Linked DNA regions of Homo sapiens: region 1 is linked to region 2. Evidence: fine-mapped expression QTL. A gene starts in region 2. The other region holds a variant in brackets. All regions are shown on one strand. Distances are between the middles of the regions.

Region 1 (8,342 bases), 43 kb before region 2:
TATCATTCGTATTTTCAAGGCAATTTGTAGATGCTTGGACCATCTTATAGACTAACAAGTGCAAACTTAGCTGCATTCACACCTCAATAGAGCAGCTGAGCATTAAAATACCCTTCATAAGAACTGGTAGTTTTGCCAATAAGTAGGCAGGTGTTTTATCAACTGAAATTGTTTTATAGGATTACTTAAAAGCCAGTACTTTCCTTCCCGGTTATTGCGCTATAAAACATATGAATAAGGATGTGCTAGATCTTTGAGTATGGTTATTTGTATTTATTATGGTTCTAAGAAGAAAAAGTAAGTTGCATTGTGAGATGTCACAGAGTAAAATTCACTGTCTTTTGTAAAGCTTTGAAATAATTTACTAGTGGTTTTTCAGTCTTGAAATTCACGCATCAGCATAATGAATGTTTAGTCTGTAATAATTGTAACCCTTGTTTTTTAAAACTATATTATATGTTACTTAAAGGCAGATTTAAAACATATATTCTAGGCTGGACACGGTGCCTCACACCTGTAATCCCAACACCTTGGGAGGCTGAAGTGGGCGGATCACAAGGTCAGGAGTTTGAGACTAGCCTGGCCAACATGGTGAAACCCTGTCTCTACTAAAAATACGAAAATTAGCGAGGCGTGGTGGCACGCACCTGTAATCCCAGCTACTCAGGAGGCTGAGGCAGGAGAATCTCTGGAATCTGGGAGGCGGAGGTGCAGTGAGCCAAGATTGCACCACTGCACTCCAACCTGAGCGACAGAGCGAGACTCTGTCTCAAAAAAACAAACAAACAAACAAAAAAACATAAATTCTGAATAGCTATCCACTCTCTCAATCTTGTACCTGAATCATCACAAACCCATTCATTGCAGTACAGTGAATTAATGCAAAATTACTAAATCTAGAGACATAGCAACTTAAGAACCAAAGCTGATCAGAGTAAATTCCCAGTAATTAGATATGTTCACATAGTAGCAATCATTTTCAATCCTTAATTAAGACAAGTTTTTGGGAACTGGTTGTGAAAATGAACGTATTTAAGTTGGTCTCCAAAATACAGAGACTTTTAGCATTTTGACTTAGTTTGAATATAGGGAGCTTGACAATATTTTGCTAAGGAGTTTGCTTTACAAATTTACTCAGGTACACACATAAAATTGGCTTTGTTCTTAGTTAATAATGAATAACCATACCAGTTACATTGTTATTTTGTAAAATTTATTTCTAAATAGAATAGAAACTTCTTACTGTTTAAATGCTTAAAACCATAGTTTTTAATGCCCAACCCTAGAGTTTATTTTAGCTATGAGAAAAGAAGCAAGATCAAGTGCATGTATGACTATACCACCTCAGACCATACTGAAAAATCATCTGCAGTGTTAAAATACCTCATATCTATAATGATCCTACATTGAATAATACAGACACACGTAAATTAGTTGCTGATATAAATGAAACCTCTAAGCCTACGATCTACTTGATTTTACATATAGAAAGTATGATCTCTGGTTCTTCTCCATATTCTTCTCTTCTAGAATGTGTGTGCAGTATAGTTGTATTATCTATTCACTTGGCTAAAGATTTTCTCTGACTGCTGCATATTCTTTTTATATAATAATTGCATCAGCAACTGTAAGCCTCTTATCTTGCCCAATAGTTTGACAGCTTGTATTTCTAGGCTAGAATACTTAAATTATGACTTTTTTCCTAGGCTGTGGATGGTTGTTATCATCACCATTCATCCATGGAAAGGAAATTTGGGCCGGACGCGGTGGCTCACGGCTGTAATCCCAGCACTTTGGGAGGCCAAGGAGGCGGATCACCTGAGGTCAGGAGTTCAAGACCAGCCTTGCCAACATGGTGAAACCTCGTCTCTACTAAAAATACAAAAACTAGTCGGGCATGGTAGCAGGCCCCTGTAATCCCAGCTAGTCGGGAGACTGAGGCAGGAGAATTGCTTGAACCCAGGAGACGGAGGTTGCAGTGAGCCAAGACCACGGCATTGCACTCCAGCCTGGGCAACAAGAGTAAAACTCCATCTCAAAAAAAAGAAAAATAAAATAAAATTTGATGTAAACAACAAACATTTCGGCCGGGTGCAGCGGCTCACACCTGCAATCCCAACACTTTGGAAGGCTGAGGTGGGTGGGTCACCTGAGGTCAGGAGTTCGAGACCAGCCTGGCCAACATGGGGAAACCCCGTCTCTACTAAAAATACAAAAATTAGCCAGGCATGGTAGCGCATGCCTGTAATCCCAGCTACTCGGGAGGCTGAGGCAGGAGAATCACTTGAACCTGGGAGGCAGAGGTTGCAGTGAGTTGAGATGGCGCCATTGCACTCCAGGCTGGGCGACAAGAGTGAAACTTTATCTCAAAAAAAAAAAAAAAAAAGGAAAAAGAAAACAACAAACATTTCAAGTACACCTCCCACCACTGCAAAGGGAATAACATTTCATTTGCTCTCTCTCTCTCTCTCTATATATATATAAAATTTTTATTTTCTGATAAGAAAAGTGCTAAGGCCAGGCACAGTGGTTCACACTTGTAATCCTGGCATTTTGGAAGGCTGAGGTGGGCAGATCCCTTGAGCCCAGGAGTTCGAGACTAGCCTGGGCAACATGGTGAAACCCCCTCTCTACCAAAAAATACAAAAATTAACTGGGCATGGTGGTGTGTGCCTGTAGTCCCAGCTACTCAGCAGACTGAAGTGGGAGGATCACCTGAGCCCAGGGAGGTCCAGCCTGCAGTGAGCCCTATTTGCACCTCTGCTCTCCAGCTGCAGTGAGCCCTATTTGCACCTCTGCTCTCCAGCTGCAGTGAGCCCTATTTGCACCTCTGCTCTCCAGCCTAGGCAATAGAGTGAGACCCTGTCTCAAAAAAAAAAAAAAAAAAAAAGTAAATATTATATATAATTAGAGAAGATGTAGAAAAAGTACAAAATACATAATCACATCACCCAAAAGTTACTACTATTTACATTTTGGAACACATATGTATATAAAACTTTTTTAAATTGGGATATTCTCTGTAACTTTTTAAATATTTTTCAATTAAAATATCATGAACATTTCCCTTATTAGGGAAGAAGAGTCACCAAGCCCTAACTAGTTTTTATTTGCCTTTCAATCATAGCACGTATGTTGATGCAAAGACCTATTCATTCCCCCATCCTAAATTCCTTTAGAATATAATGCTAATTAATTTTCTTCCAGAAGTCTCTGCGAAGTATCATGATTAATTTTTCTCAACTAAATATAGGAGTTCCCTAGTTACATGCTGCTTGACCTCCTGTAGGTTTACTCCTACATATGTAGCTACGGCAGTGAAACAGGATGAGTTATATTTATAAATCTATTTACCTGCAGAAATGCCTCTTTTCCTGTACTAAATGCTTAAAGTAATACAGAACACAGCTGCTTTCTTTCTTCAGTATCTTGTTAATCAGGATTAAATATATCTATATGCACAAGTACATACACACACACCCCGTTTGTGGTTTGCATGGGGAAGAAAACATATTACAATGCTCTCAGCTGAGCCAGAGGCAGTAGAAGACTACGTGACTGTCCCTGACTTCTTTTATCTAAAAGGAGGTTCGAGAATGCTCAGTAACAACTGCCACATCTATTGACTGGCACCAGGAAATGGTCAGAAATGAAGTTCATAGAAATGAACTTCATACTAGATAATAAATCATATTATTTCACTTACAATCAGCAATTATGCAAATGGTGGTTTTTAGGATTTGAAGAGACAAGGTGTTTACCAGAGACTCTTTTTTTTTTTTTTTTTTTTTTTGAGATGGAGTCTCACTCTGTCCCCCAGGCTGGAATGCAGTGGCATGATATCGGCCCACTGCAACTTCCATCTTCCAGGTTCCAGCAATTCTCCTGCCTCAGCCTCCTGAGTAGCTGGGACTACAGGCACCCACCATCACGCCCGGCTAATTTTTGTATTTTTAGTAGAGACGGGGTTTCACCATGTTGGCCAGGCTGGTCTCAAATTCTTGACCTCAGGTGAGCCACCACACCTGGCCAGAAACTTTTAATAGACACAATTTTGGGAGCATTTTAAAAAATTGTGGTAAAATGTAAATAAGATTTAAGATTTTAACCATTTTTAAGTGTATCATTCACTGGCACTAAGTACAGTCATGATGTTGTACAACCATTATCATAATAGATAAAATTTTGTATAAAGTACATGACATATTTCAAACCTATAGTTATAT[A/G]AATTTTGAAGCAATGCAGATATTTCTATAATTTGTATAAAAAAATCGGGGCAGTGCATACATGTAATTATAGTCCATCTGAAGCCTCATATTCAATTCCTCACAATTTCCTAAGCTTTATACTCTACATTAAAATTGTCTACTTATAACTCAAAATTTTCTGTAATCTTTTCAATAAAATCAGTAATATCACTTACGAAAACAAGAAATAACGAGTGTTGGCAAGGATGTGGAGAAATTGGAACCCTTGAACGCTAAGGTGGGAATGTAAAATGGTCAAGCTGCTATGGAAAACAATATGAAGGCTTCTCAAATAATTAAAAATAGAGCTACCATAAGATGCAGCAATCCCACTTCTGGGTATTTATCCAAAAGAATTGAAAACAGGATCCCAAAGGGATAGTTGCTGTCCCGTGTTCATAGTAGCATTATTCACAATAGCCAAGAATTGCAAACAACCTAAATGTCCATCAATGGTTGAATAAAGACAATGTGGGATATAAATACAATGGAATAATTCAGCCTTAAAAAAGAAGGAAATTCTGTCATAAGCTACAATGTGAATGATCCTTAAGAATTAGGGTAAGTCAGCTGGACAGGGTGGCTCACACTTACAATCCCAGAACCTCAGGAGGCCGAGGCAGGAGGATCACTTGAAGCCAGGAGTTTGAGACCAGCCTGGGCAACAAAACAAGACCCAGTCTGTACCAAAAACAAAACAAAACAAAACAAAACTTTTTTAAGCCAGGCATAGTGACATGCAGCTATGATTCCAGCTACTCAAGAAGCTGAGGAGGGAGGATTACTTGAGCCCAGGAGTTCAAGCTGCAGTGAGCTGTGATCGCGCCACTGCACTCCAACCTGGGTGACACAGTGAGACCCCGTCTCAAAAAAAAAAAAAAAAAATAGGCCAAGTGAAATAAACCAGTCATGAAAGGACAAATACTGCATGATTCCACTTATATGTATTATCTAAAGTAGTCAAACTTACAGAATCAGTTAAGTAAAATGGTGGTTGCCAGGAGCTGGAGGGGTTAGAAATGGGGAATTGTTCAATGGGTACTCAGTTTCAGTCATACAAGATGAAAAAGTTCTAGAGATCTGCTCTACAATGAAGTGCATCTAGTAAACAATAGTGTACTGTACATTTAACATTTTGATAGGGTACACTTCATTTTTTTTTTTTTTTTTAACACTTACAGTTTCTGGTTTCAGGTCTGGACAACAAAACAAAAGGTCAAAATATCTCTTCCATCTCATTACCACCTACCCTATAGATGATAATTGTCATTCCCATTCTGGACAACAAAACAAAACAGAATCCTGCATTTGCCTTGCCCCTGAGCTTTAAGAAAATACTGCTAAAATAGGGGTCTGGAAAACTGACAATAATTGAAAACAAGTAGCTTTTTTTTTTTTCAGACAATCTTGCTCTGTCACCCAGGCTGGAGTGCAGTGGCGCAAATATGGCTCACTGCAGCCTCGACCTCCCAGGCTCAAGCAATCCTCTCACCTCAGTCGCCCCCTATCCTCCTGGGGGGACTAGAGGTGTGCACAAAGCTGGCTCATTTTTTTCCCCTTTATAGAGATGGGGGTCTCACTATGTTGCCCAGGGTTGTCTCAAACTCCAGGGCTCAAGTGATCCTCCCGCCTCGGCCTCCCTAAGTACCACTATCACAGGCATGAACTATTATGCCCCATCACATAGCTTTTTTAAAGTTAGAAACAATACTTTCCAACCTGTGAAAGATGGTGAAATAGATACAAAGTTATAATGATGACAAAAGAATTTTTAAAAGATTTTTAACAAGGATGCGGGGTGAACTCTGAGAATCGGGTAAGCCATCTCAGAAGAATGAATGAGGAGGGTAATCAGAACAAGGAGATAAAGGCATGATGGGGAAATGAGAGGAGGTGAATTGGTTTGGAGTTCGATCAGAGTCAAGGTTCACAATTTCCAAATATTAAATTGTCCTGTTAGGATTTTCCTTAGTCTCCTTCATACACTGGTCTTTCCCCTCTTACTTATCTTGCACACAACCACCAAGCAAATTGTCAGCCACTAACTCCCTCTTATTATAGGCACCTTCTCATAGCCTCAGCCTCTGACTCCATCCAAAGTACAGCTAAGGCATATTTGCAGAAAATTATCCCACTCGATTTCTAGGTAGAATTCATTTGTATGGGAGCAAACAAAATTATGAAACCAGATACATCCTGATATATTACAATTTAAATGTCCTGGCTATATTTTATTTCCGGTAAGCTGGAGCAGACTATTGCACACTTCTTGCCACCTTGACCTACATAGCTGCTCTTTCAGGGGCATCTCATACCATGCAGCAACAGTGGAGCCTCCTGCCCCCTATCTCTCTTCCTTTATCTGTGTAGTTTGGAGTTTCTCAGATGAGGGTTACAGGCCGGGGAAGGAGAGAGAATGGAAATGGTAAGCACTACATAGGCTGAAGTGAGGACTTCATGTAGGAAATGACAGAAAACTCCTGAGCTGAAAAAAGGCAAGTACTGCGACTATAAATACCAAGATTTTCCTGTGTGGATGGCATACTGATTTTGAAGACAACTCCATGAAAAGAAGGTTCCAGAAATTTTGGAATGACCTCATAAGTGAAATTAGCATATAGCCTCCTAAAATAACTTAGAAAGACAAGATTTAATTTAGGTCTTTAAAGTCCCAGTATGCTTATTCAAAAAAGCACTATCGTTTATGGTTATTACCCAACACTACTCTTTCAAAAAATGGCTAATGAAAGAAAACAATGCAACATAATTGTAACTGAGCTTAAACTTAAAAGGCTTGATTTCTGAATTTAGGTTCAAGTCTAAGTTTTGTCACCACTCAAGAAAGACATATAAGTTTTTTGGCATTACCAAGGAATACTGTGGACAGCAAGAAAACTTTAAATAATGGCTAATTAATCCTTGAAGGGAATATGTAGAACTTACAAAATGTCATATTCCAAAGTTGCTAAGCAGAAAAACTTGCTCTTTTCTAACAAGTTTTCATCTTCATTAATGATGCCTATGCTGTTCATACGGAAAATTCCAGGCATCTTCGGGGCTAAACATGTTTTGACTTCTCAAAAAAAAAAAAAAAAAAAAATCCCTGTAATCCCAGTGCTTTGGGAGGCTGAAGGGGGATGAGAGGCAGGGGGATCACTAGAGGCCAGGAGTTCAAGACCAGCCTAGGCAACATAGTGAGACACCTTCTCTACAAAAAATAAAAAATTAGCCAGGTGTGGTGGCTTGCACCTGTCGTCTTCGCTACTTAAGAGGCTGAGGTAGGAGGAATGCTTAAACCCAGGAGTTCAAGGTTACGGTGAGCTATGATTGTGCCATTGCACTCAAGACTCAGGAACAGGGTGAGACCTTGTCTCTATAAAACAACAAAAGGCCAGGCATGGTGGCTCACGCCTGTAATCCCAGCACTTTGGGAGGCCGAGGTGGGCAGATCACGAGGTCAGGAGATCGAGACCATCCTGGCTAACATGGTGAAACCCCATCTCTACTAAAAATACAAAAACAGGCCGGGCATGGTGGCTCACGCCTGTAATCCCAGCACTTTGGGAGACTGAGGCAGGAGGATCACGAGGTCAAGAGATCGAGACCATCCTGGCTAACGTGGTGAAACCCCGTCTCTACTAAAAATACAAAAAAAAAAAAAAAAAAATTAGCCAGGCCTGGTGGCAGGCGCCTGTAGTTCCAGATATTCGGGAGGCTGAGGCAGGAGAATGGCGTGCACCCAGGAGGCGGAGCTTGCAGTAAGCCAAGATTGCGCCACTGCACTCCAGCCTGGGTGACAGAGTGAGACTCCGCCTCAAACAAACAAACAAAACAACAAAATCCCCAAAACTCTCTCCCCAAAAGTTGCAAAGTATCATGAGACCCTACTTAATTAAAATAAAATACAGATGATGCCCCAGTTAAATGCCACTTAAGCTGGCCGGACGCAGTGGCTCACGCCTATAATCCCAGCACTTCGGGAGGCCGAGGTGGGCAGATCACGAAGTCAGGAGTTCGAGACCATCCTGGCCAACATAGCAAAACCCTGTCTCTACTAAAAATACAAAAATTAGCCAGGTGTGGTGGCATGCGCCT
Region 2 (8,342 bases):
GCACACACCTGTATTCCCAGCTACTCAGGAGGCTGAGGCAGCAGAATTGCTTGAACAGGGAGATGGAAGTTGCAGTGAGCCGAGACTGCACCACTGCACTCCAGCCTGGGTGACAGAGCAAGACTCTGTCTCAAGAAAAAGAAAAAAAAAAAAAAAGGAGATTTGAGGTTTGCCTTTTCTGCTTCAAAATTCTATTGACTTGAAAGAGTATTTCATTATTTTAAGTGAATATACATCTTTGTAAATGTAGGAACAATGTTTGAGAAGTTTACCATGGGCCACTTTCTACAATTTCCTTTATACAAAGTCCTTGACGAGCAAAATGAATCTCAACTACAAACTGTTCCTTGAGAAAAAGGAGCTCTGCAATAACTGTTTTTAAATGCAGTTCAAGGAACCTAGTATGGCAAAATTCAAAGATCAACTATATATAGATACAAATAAATATAGTCTAACACAAATTAATGCATGAAATAATAAGAGGATGTTACAGCGACACATGGAAATTAGTAGCTTGACTTCATAAATTATCCTCTTAATATTATAGAAATTGGTGTCTGTCACTAAACTGGAGTTTCCCATTAAGTTTATTTTCTCCCTCCACAAGAAACTAGCTTATAATGGGAAAAAAATCTGCCTATTACAGCATTATTAAAAACTCAAAATTTACTGCTATAATAGAGAATATTTATTGTGCGGTTATTTTTTGTGTGCCAGACACTGAGCCACGTGTTTTACATCCAATATCTCACTACCCTACTGTGGGATGGGGATGGGTACTGTACTCCTTTTTTCTTTCAACTTTTTACTATAAAGATTTTCAAGGCCGGGTACAGTGGCTAAAGCCTGTAATCTCGGCACTTTGGGAGGCCGAGGCAGGTGGATCACCTGGGGTCGGGAGTTTGAGACCAGCCTGGCCAGCATGGTGAAACTAAAAATACACCTCATGGTGAAACTAAAAATACAAAAAATTAGCCGGGTGTGGTGGCGGGCACCTGTAATCCTAGCTACTCGGGAGGCTGAGGCAGGAAAATCGCTTGAACCTAGGAAGTGGAGGTTGCAGTGAGCTGAGATAACACCACTGCACTCCAGCCTGGGTGACAGAGTGAAGACTCCATCTCAAAAGAAAAAGAAAATTTTCAAACATACAGAGAAGTAGAAAGAATAAAACAACAAACACCCATGTCCACACCATGTAGATGAACAACTGTTGACATTTTGCTGTATTTACTTCTTGTGTGTGTACTTTTTTGTTTTGGCTGAACTATTTTAAAGTAAATTACAGATAGCATAAAACTTTAAAATCTAAATGTTTCAGCATAATTTCCAAATGGCATTCTTCTTCATAACCACAATACTGTCTTCCAAATGACATTCTCCTCATAACTACATTATCACATCTGACAAAATTAGTAATTCCTTAACATTCCAGTTCATATATAAATTTCCCCAACTGTCCTCAAAATGTCCTAGATAGCTTTTCTTTAATCCAGGAAACAAAGACCACACATTATGTTTGATTGTTTTGTCTTTCAAGTATTTTTTAATCTTAAGAAACTGGGCGGCCAAGCGCAGTGGTTCACGCCTGTAATCCCAGCACTTTGGGAGGCCAAGGCGGGCGGATCATGAGGTCAGGAGATCGAGACCATCCTGACTAACACGGTGAAACCTGTCTCTACTAAAAGTACAAAAAATTAGCCGGGCTTGGTGGTGGGTGCCTGTAGTCCGAGCTACTTGGGAGGCTGAGGCAGGAGAATGGCGTGAACCCAGGAGGCGGAGCGTGCAGTGAGCTGAGATCCCACCACTGTGCTCCAGCCTGGGCAACAGAGCGAGACTCCGTCTCAAAAAAAAAAAAGAAAAAAGAAAAAAGAAACTAGGCAAATTATCTTATGAAGATACTCTTTTTAAGCCTTCCTTCTAACCCCACATATCTAACCTGCATAGAGAGTAAGCAAAACAAGATACAACCAGTCCATTAGTGTTTGACTTTGAGTGCCAGGAAAATAAATAATTTGACATAGAATTTTAGCTGATAGAGATAGCTATGAACCAAATGTCCCCTTCTTGCTATTCTAATAAGCAGTGAAATAAGGTGAATGCACCAACTCCTATGTCAAAGCGTAAGAAGTGATGCCCTGAAAACGTCATTAATATCAGTTGTGGTTGTGTTTAACTGATTTTTAAATAGTCTAAATGTCACTAATGAAAGAAAACATAGATAGCTAGAAGAAAAGTTATCTGCAATGAATAAAAATAATACAATAGTAAGACTTTTGCTTATAGAGTATCCTACAACATTATTGCTTTACAGGATATTTCAATAGTAACAAAATACAGAAGCTGTGCATTTACACAAGTGTTATAAACTGTCAATGTGCTTTAAATAATTTCAAGAAACTTTATTTCAACTATGAAGTCTCTGAAAATTGGAAAGAATATTTACCCTTCACCAAGAAACTAAAGTTAAAGGGCATTTATTTTTTCTTTTCTTTTATTTTATTTTTTGAGACAGAGTCTCACTCTTTCACCCAGGCTGGAGTGCAGTGGCGGGATCTCAGCTCACTGCAAGCTCTGCCTCCCGGGTTCACGCCATTCTCCTGCCTCAGCCTCCCGAGTAGCTGGGACTACAGGCACCCGCCACCGCGCCCAGCTAATTTTTGTATTTTTTAGTAGAGACGGGGTTTCATCGTGTTAGCCAGGATGGTCTCGATCTCCTGACCTCGTGATGCACCCGCCTCGGCCTCCCAAAGTGCTGTGATTACAGGCGTGAGCCACCGCACCCAGCCCTAAAGGGCATTTATAACACATATGCTATGAGGTATTTGTGAGGGTGAGGGGGAACTCCAAGTCCAAATCAATAACCTTAAAATATTTTATTTCAAATATCTAGACCTGGCTGTCCAATATGGTAGCCATTAGTAGCCACTAGCCATATGTGGCTACTTAAATTTAATTAAAATAAAATAAAATTCACATCTCAGTTGCACTAGCCATATATTAAGTGCTCAGTAGCTACATCTGGCTGGTGGATACAGATAAGGCACAGATACAGAACATTCCCTGATCACAGAAAGCTCTACTGAACAGCATAGAGTTAGACTATTTCCTGTGTACACATTAACTCCCCAAAGAGAGAGGAAGCTCCTGAAATGTATGGAGTTCCTACTTGTTTTACATACAACATTGAGAACAGGTAGTTCTAAACAGGGAAGTGAAATGTCTTTTGGAGAAGATACAAAGCAGGGCATTCTCTGTGAAAGTATTCATCTATAAGAATAAAACAGTACACTAGGGATGGATGACTGATGCTCAGATGTGTCTGGGACTTTCCTACGCAGAAAAGAATCCAGAAGAGAGCATAATGCAGTGCATTGTGTCCCAAATTGTAGTTTGTATGTCTGACACGAGACGATTTTACATAGCACATGGACCAACATTTTTAGATACACCTTAGAATAACTATACTGTTATTGGAGCAGCCATCAAATGGCTAATTTCACAGATATTGTTTCTTAGGACAAGTTTGATTTTTATAAAAAAAAAAAGTAAGTAAAAACATAGAATAATACAGGTAGTACACAGGTATGGCAAAATTGTTAGGTAGTAAGTGAATGGGATGCTGGGAAACAGCATAATGCCAAGAGTCTGGGAGTCCTACAGATATGGATTCTAAACCTAATCCTGAGTAGTTCGGTAGCATTTAGTAGTATGCTACTTGCCTTTTGAGTAAGCTTGGACAAGGTTCTAGTTTTCCTGAAGTTACTGACACATTTTTAAAATACCTACTAACCCTACTGAGATATCCGACCATTGAGTGATAACATATAGTACGCATATTAGCACTCGATGAAGATAGATCTCCTTCTTTTTCCCCAAGGAAGAGATGAGAGAGTGTATCGATTCCCCCTGACAAAGGAGATGAAACTTTAGAAGAGAAACTCCTATTCACCTGTGACTTCGTTGATCTTCCTCCTCATAGGGAAGGCCAGAATGCTGAAATGACAAGGCTAGGGAAGAGAAAGAAGTTCTGAAAGACCAGGTCTGCATTAAAGAACCTAAATTAGCAACTTAGGTCCTTGCTATGGTAGAACCGGAACTTCTGGTCCTTTCTTACCTGACCATTCCCTCACGTTGGGTGTTTTCTCCTCTCACATTGACACTGCACAGACTGTTACCCACCCCAGATCCTAGGTTACATAACGCTCGCCTCTCTCCTGGGGCAAACTCTCTCCATGATTTCTTCGTTCCCCCGTACTCTAGATGCAATGACTTGATCCAATCCCTGCTCCCTGAAAGTAAAAGGGTCAGACATAACCAAGATCCCCAAGGAGCTCCGAGATCAGTTCCCTCTTCCAGCTCCATTCTCAACCCAGCAGCTCAAGCAAGAGACCTTATGACAGCGGCTCTTTCTCTCAGATGGGTTACTGCCTTCTGCAGAATTGCCGATGGCAACATCCTGACTTGTTCAGTGCGGCCCGGACTTGTGGGCTCCGCGGGCGTTTGCCTTCAGGGAAGATCTTTCCTCTGGCCCTAAAGCACTGTCTCCCAGGGAGTGCCATGCATGCCCTAAAGTGTACTGAGCACTTCCTACAGTTCTGGCAGAGCCAGGAATAAGAACAGGGAGCCGTCCACCTCGGGAAGGAGTCCCGGCCAACAGCACTGTGTTCCGAGGGCGAAGGTCCAGAACGGGAACCCGGCCTGTGAGGGGAGACGAGACGAGCCGCTTCCCGGGAGCCGCGCCCACCAAGGGAGGGAGACGCGGCGATCGCAGGGACAGAACCCTAAGCTCCGAAACGCAGCCTCCCAGCCCATTCTCCGGCCTTCCCCTAACCTCTGATACTCCTCCGAACCTCGGACTCCACCTGGTTTCGCCGCGGCCTCGGAGCTGCTCCCGGACGCTCCCGGCGAGGAGACTGAGGAAGCCGGGCAGAGCGCGCTGCCGGAGCGGACTACACAGTCGGCCCGCCACTCGCAAAAAAGCCGCCCAGAGCCCAGTCCCAGAGTGCCCCGCGGCTGCCCACGGACCGCCTTCCCAGAGGCCCTCGCGGCGCCGCCTACCTCGCGAGGCTGCGGCTGGGGCAGAAATCCGTCTCTGTGAGCGGAGGAGGGTGTGCTTATGCGAGAGCAGGTTTTGGGAGCTCACTAAAGCAGGTCAGTCCCTCTGTTTGCGCCGTTGTCTGTGGGTCGTTTAATTCCGGGCGCAGCTGATCTGTAACTTCCCTCACTGGCGAGGTCTCCCAGTTACCACCGGGACAATCCGAGCAAGGTCTGGGCCCCTCGCTGCCCCCGGTGAAGTGCCGCGTCTCCGCTTGGCCATCCGTGGATTCAGCATCCCCACCTTAGCACCTCCCGCCGGCTTTTCCATTGAGAGCAAAACCACGAACTCACTTTTGAGAGATGCTGGCGCTCCCCTCATCAATATTTCTTTTTTTTTTTCTGTTTGCTTACTTTTAACTAACCTTTTATTGATAAATATAACACAATTTTATTCTGAAATATAAACCAAAGATAAGTATAATTATGAACAGCCAAGTCATTAGAGCGAAAAAAGAATAGTGTCAGGTTCTTCACAGATACACTTCCTGAGAAAACCACTAGCCCGACTTTTATAACACTTTGCTTTTCTTATTTATATTTATTTATTTATTTATTTTACCAAAAGCAGATACTTGACTCTTTGCTTTTCTTTACGGTTTATCACGCATACTTGAAAACTGGATTTATGACAAAGGTGGCATCATACAGCCATGGAGAAAAGATGGTCTATTCAGTGAAGGTTCTATGACAATATGAAGGCCGGGCACGGTGGCTCACGCCTGTAATCCCAGCACTTTGGGAGGCTGAGGTGGGCGGATCACGAGGTTAAGAGATCGAGACCATCCTGGCCAACATGGTGAAACCCTGTCTCTACTAAAAAGTACAAAAATTAGCTGGGTGTGGTGGCACACACCTGTAGTCCCAGCTATTCAGGAGGCTGAAGCAGGAGAATCGCTTGAACCGGGAGGCGGAGGTTGCAGTGAGCGGAGATCACACCACTGCACTTCAGCCTGGGCAACAGAGGGAGACTCCGTCTCAAAAAAAAAAACAAAACAGAAAACAGGACCTCTATCTCTCATTTCATCACAAAAATCAATTGTAGCTGGATTAAGACCTAAATGTGAAATCCTAAACTATAAAGTCTTCAGAATATAATATAGGAAAATATCTTTGGACTTCAGAATAGGTAAATATTTTAAAACAAAAATAGAAAAACATTAAATTGGCCAGGCATGGTGGCTCATGCCTGTAATACCAACACTTTGGGAGGCCCAGGTAGGCGGATCACTTGAGGTCAGGAGTTGAGACCAGCCTGGCCAACATAGTGAAACCCCGTTTCTAGTAAAAATACAAAAAATTAGCCAAGTGTGGTGGCAGGTGCCTGTAATCTCAGCTACTTGGGAGGCTGAGGCAGGAGAATCACTTGAACCTGGGAGGCGGAGTTTGCAGTGAGCCGACAACAGGCCACTGCACTCCAGCCTGGGTGATAAAGTGAGACTCTGTCTCAAAAAAAAAAAGGAAAAAAAGAAAGAGAAAAAAGGAAAGAAAAAGAAAGAAAGAGAAAGAAAGAAAAGAAAAGAAAGAAAGAGAAACATTAAATTAAGACAACTACAGGCTGAGTGCAGTGGCTCACACACCTGTAATCCTAGAACTCTGGGAGGCCGAAGTGGGTGGATCCCTTGAGCTCAGTTCAGAAACCAGCTGGGGTAACATGGTGAAAACACGTCTCTACAAAAAATACAAAAATTAGCTGGGGGTGGTGATACGTGCCTGTAGTCCCAGCTACTCTGGTGCGTCAGTTGGGAAAATTTTGAAGTGACTTGTGTTTTAGATAATATTATCAATCAATTATAGGTCTCCTGAGTGTCATAATGATTTTGTGGTTATGTAGGAAAATGTTCTTTTTCTTAGAAATATGTAAGTTGAGGCCAGGTACGGTGGCTCTCGCCTGTAATCCTAGCACTTTGGGAGGCCGAGGCGGGCGGATCACCTGAAGTCAGGAGTTCAAGACCAGCCTGGCCAACATGGTGAAACCCTGTCTCTACTAAAATACAAAAATTAGCCGGGCATGATGGCAGGTGCCTGTAATCCTAGCTACTCGGGAGGCTGAGATGGGAGAATCGCTTGAAACCGGGAGATGGTGGTTGCAGTGAGCCGAGATCATGCCACTGCACTCCAGCCTGGGTGGCTGACTGAGACTCTTGTCTCAAAAAAAAAAAAAAAAAAAAATGGAATTTAAGTGTATTAAATAGTCTGTTCTCATGCTGCTAATAAAGACATACCTGAGATTGGGTAATTTATAAAGGAAAGAGATTTAATTGACTCACGGCTCCACATGGCGGGGGAGGCCTCACAATCATGGAGGAAGGTGAAGGAGGAGCAAAGTCACCTCTTACATGGTGGCAGGCAAGAGAGAACATGTGCAGGGGAACACACCTTTATAAAACCATCAGGTCAGCTGGGTGTGGTGCCTTATGCCCGTAATCCCAGCACTTTGGGAGGCCATGGCTGGTGGATCACCTAAGGTCAGGAGTTCAAGACCAGCCTGGCCAACATGGTGAAACCCTATCTCTACTAAAAATACAAAAAATTAGCCAAGCATGGTGGCAGACGCCTGTAATCCCAGCTATTCGGGAGGCTGAGGCAGGAGAATCACTTGAACCTGGGAGGCGGAGGTTGTGGTGAGCTGAGATCGCGCCACTGCACTCCAGCCTGGGCAACAAGAGTGAAATTCCATCTCAAAAACAAAAACGAAACAAAACAAAACCATCAGATCTTGTGAGACTTATTCACTATCACGAGAACAGCATGGGAAAGACCTGCCCCCACGATTCAATTACCTCCTACCAGGTACCTCTTCCATGATATGTGGGAATTATGGGAGCTACACTTCAAGATGAGATTTGGGTTGGGAGACAACCAAACCATATCATTGAGGAAATGCTTTTTAATCCATTGAGATATGAGAAGGCATTTCTGGATTGAGGCTACAAAAACTTTCTGCCTCTTCCCCAACATAACCTTTCTTACTTGAGATGTAAACTGAATGCCAGGAAAACCCCTCCCCAACCCCTTCACACATGGACCACTCCTCAAATGGGGTTTGAGGGGCAATGACACTGGGTAGAGTGAAGCAGAAGAGATTTAGAAACAGTCATGGAATTTGTGGGGAAAATAAATATCAAAAACATAGTACCATATATTCCCCAAAACTTTCAGCCTAAAGACTGTGGGTCTCAAAACTGAGAAAAGAATGCCCTTTTCCCCAAAAGGCTATCCTAGGAAGTCTGAGTCCTTAAGGCCCA

Alleles and levels. Alleles are on the strand shown, and positions count from the first base shown. SD is a standard deviation of normalised expression in the study named.
With allele A in place of G in region 1, the expression in stomach of the gene that starts at base 4,973 in region 2 is lower (moderate effect, 0.41 SD a copy in GTEx).

Evidence for each region.
Region 1: its variant is fine-mapped to the expression of EXO5 in stomach (GTEx, PIP 0.92).

What each region holds. Positions count from the first base shown.
Region 1 is chr1:40,548,380-40,556,721 of GRCh38, reverse strand. No RefSeq gene overlaps it. Among named protein-coding and RNA genes, the nearest start is that of ZNF684, 21 kb to the right of the region's middle. The variant A/G (reference allele first, on the strand shown) is at 4,227.
Region 2 is chr1:40,505,398-40,513,739 of GRCh38, reverse strand. EXO5 (exonuclease 5) reads right to left here and starts at 4,973. Exons shown (of 4, transcript NM_001346953.2): 1 at 4,832-4,973; 2 at 4,115-4,289; 3 at 3,950-4,007. It overlaps EXO5-DT (EXO5 divergent transcript), which reads left to right and starts at 5,045. Exons shown (of 2, transcript NR_187365.1): 1 at 5,045-5,151. RefSeq lists enhancers at 4,567-4,656, 4,687-4,936.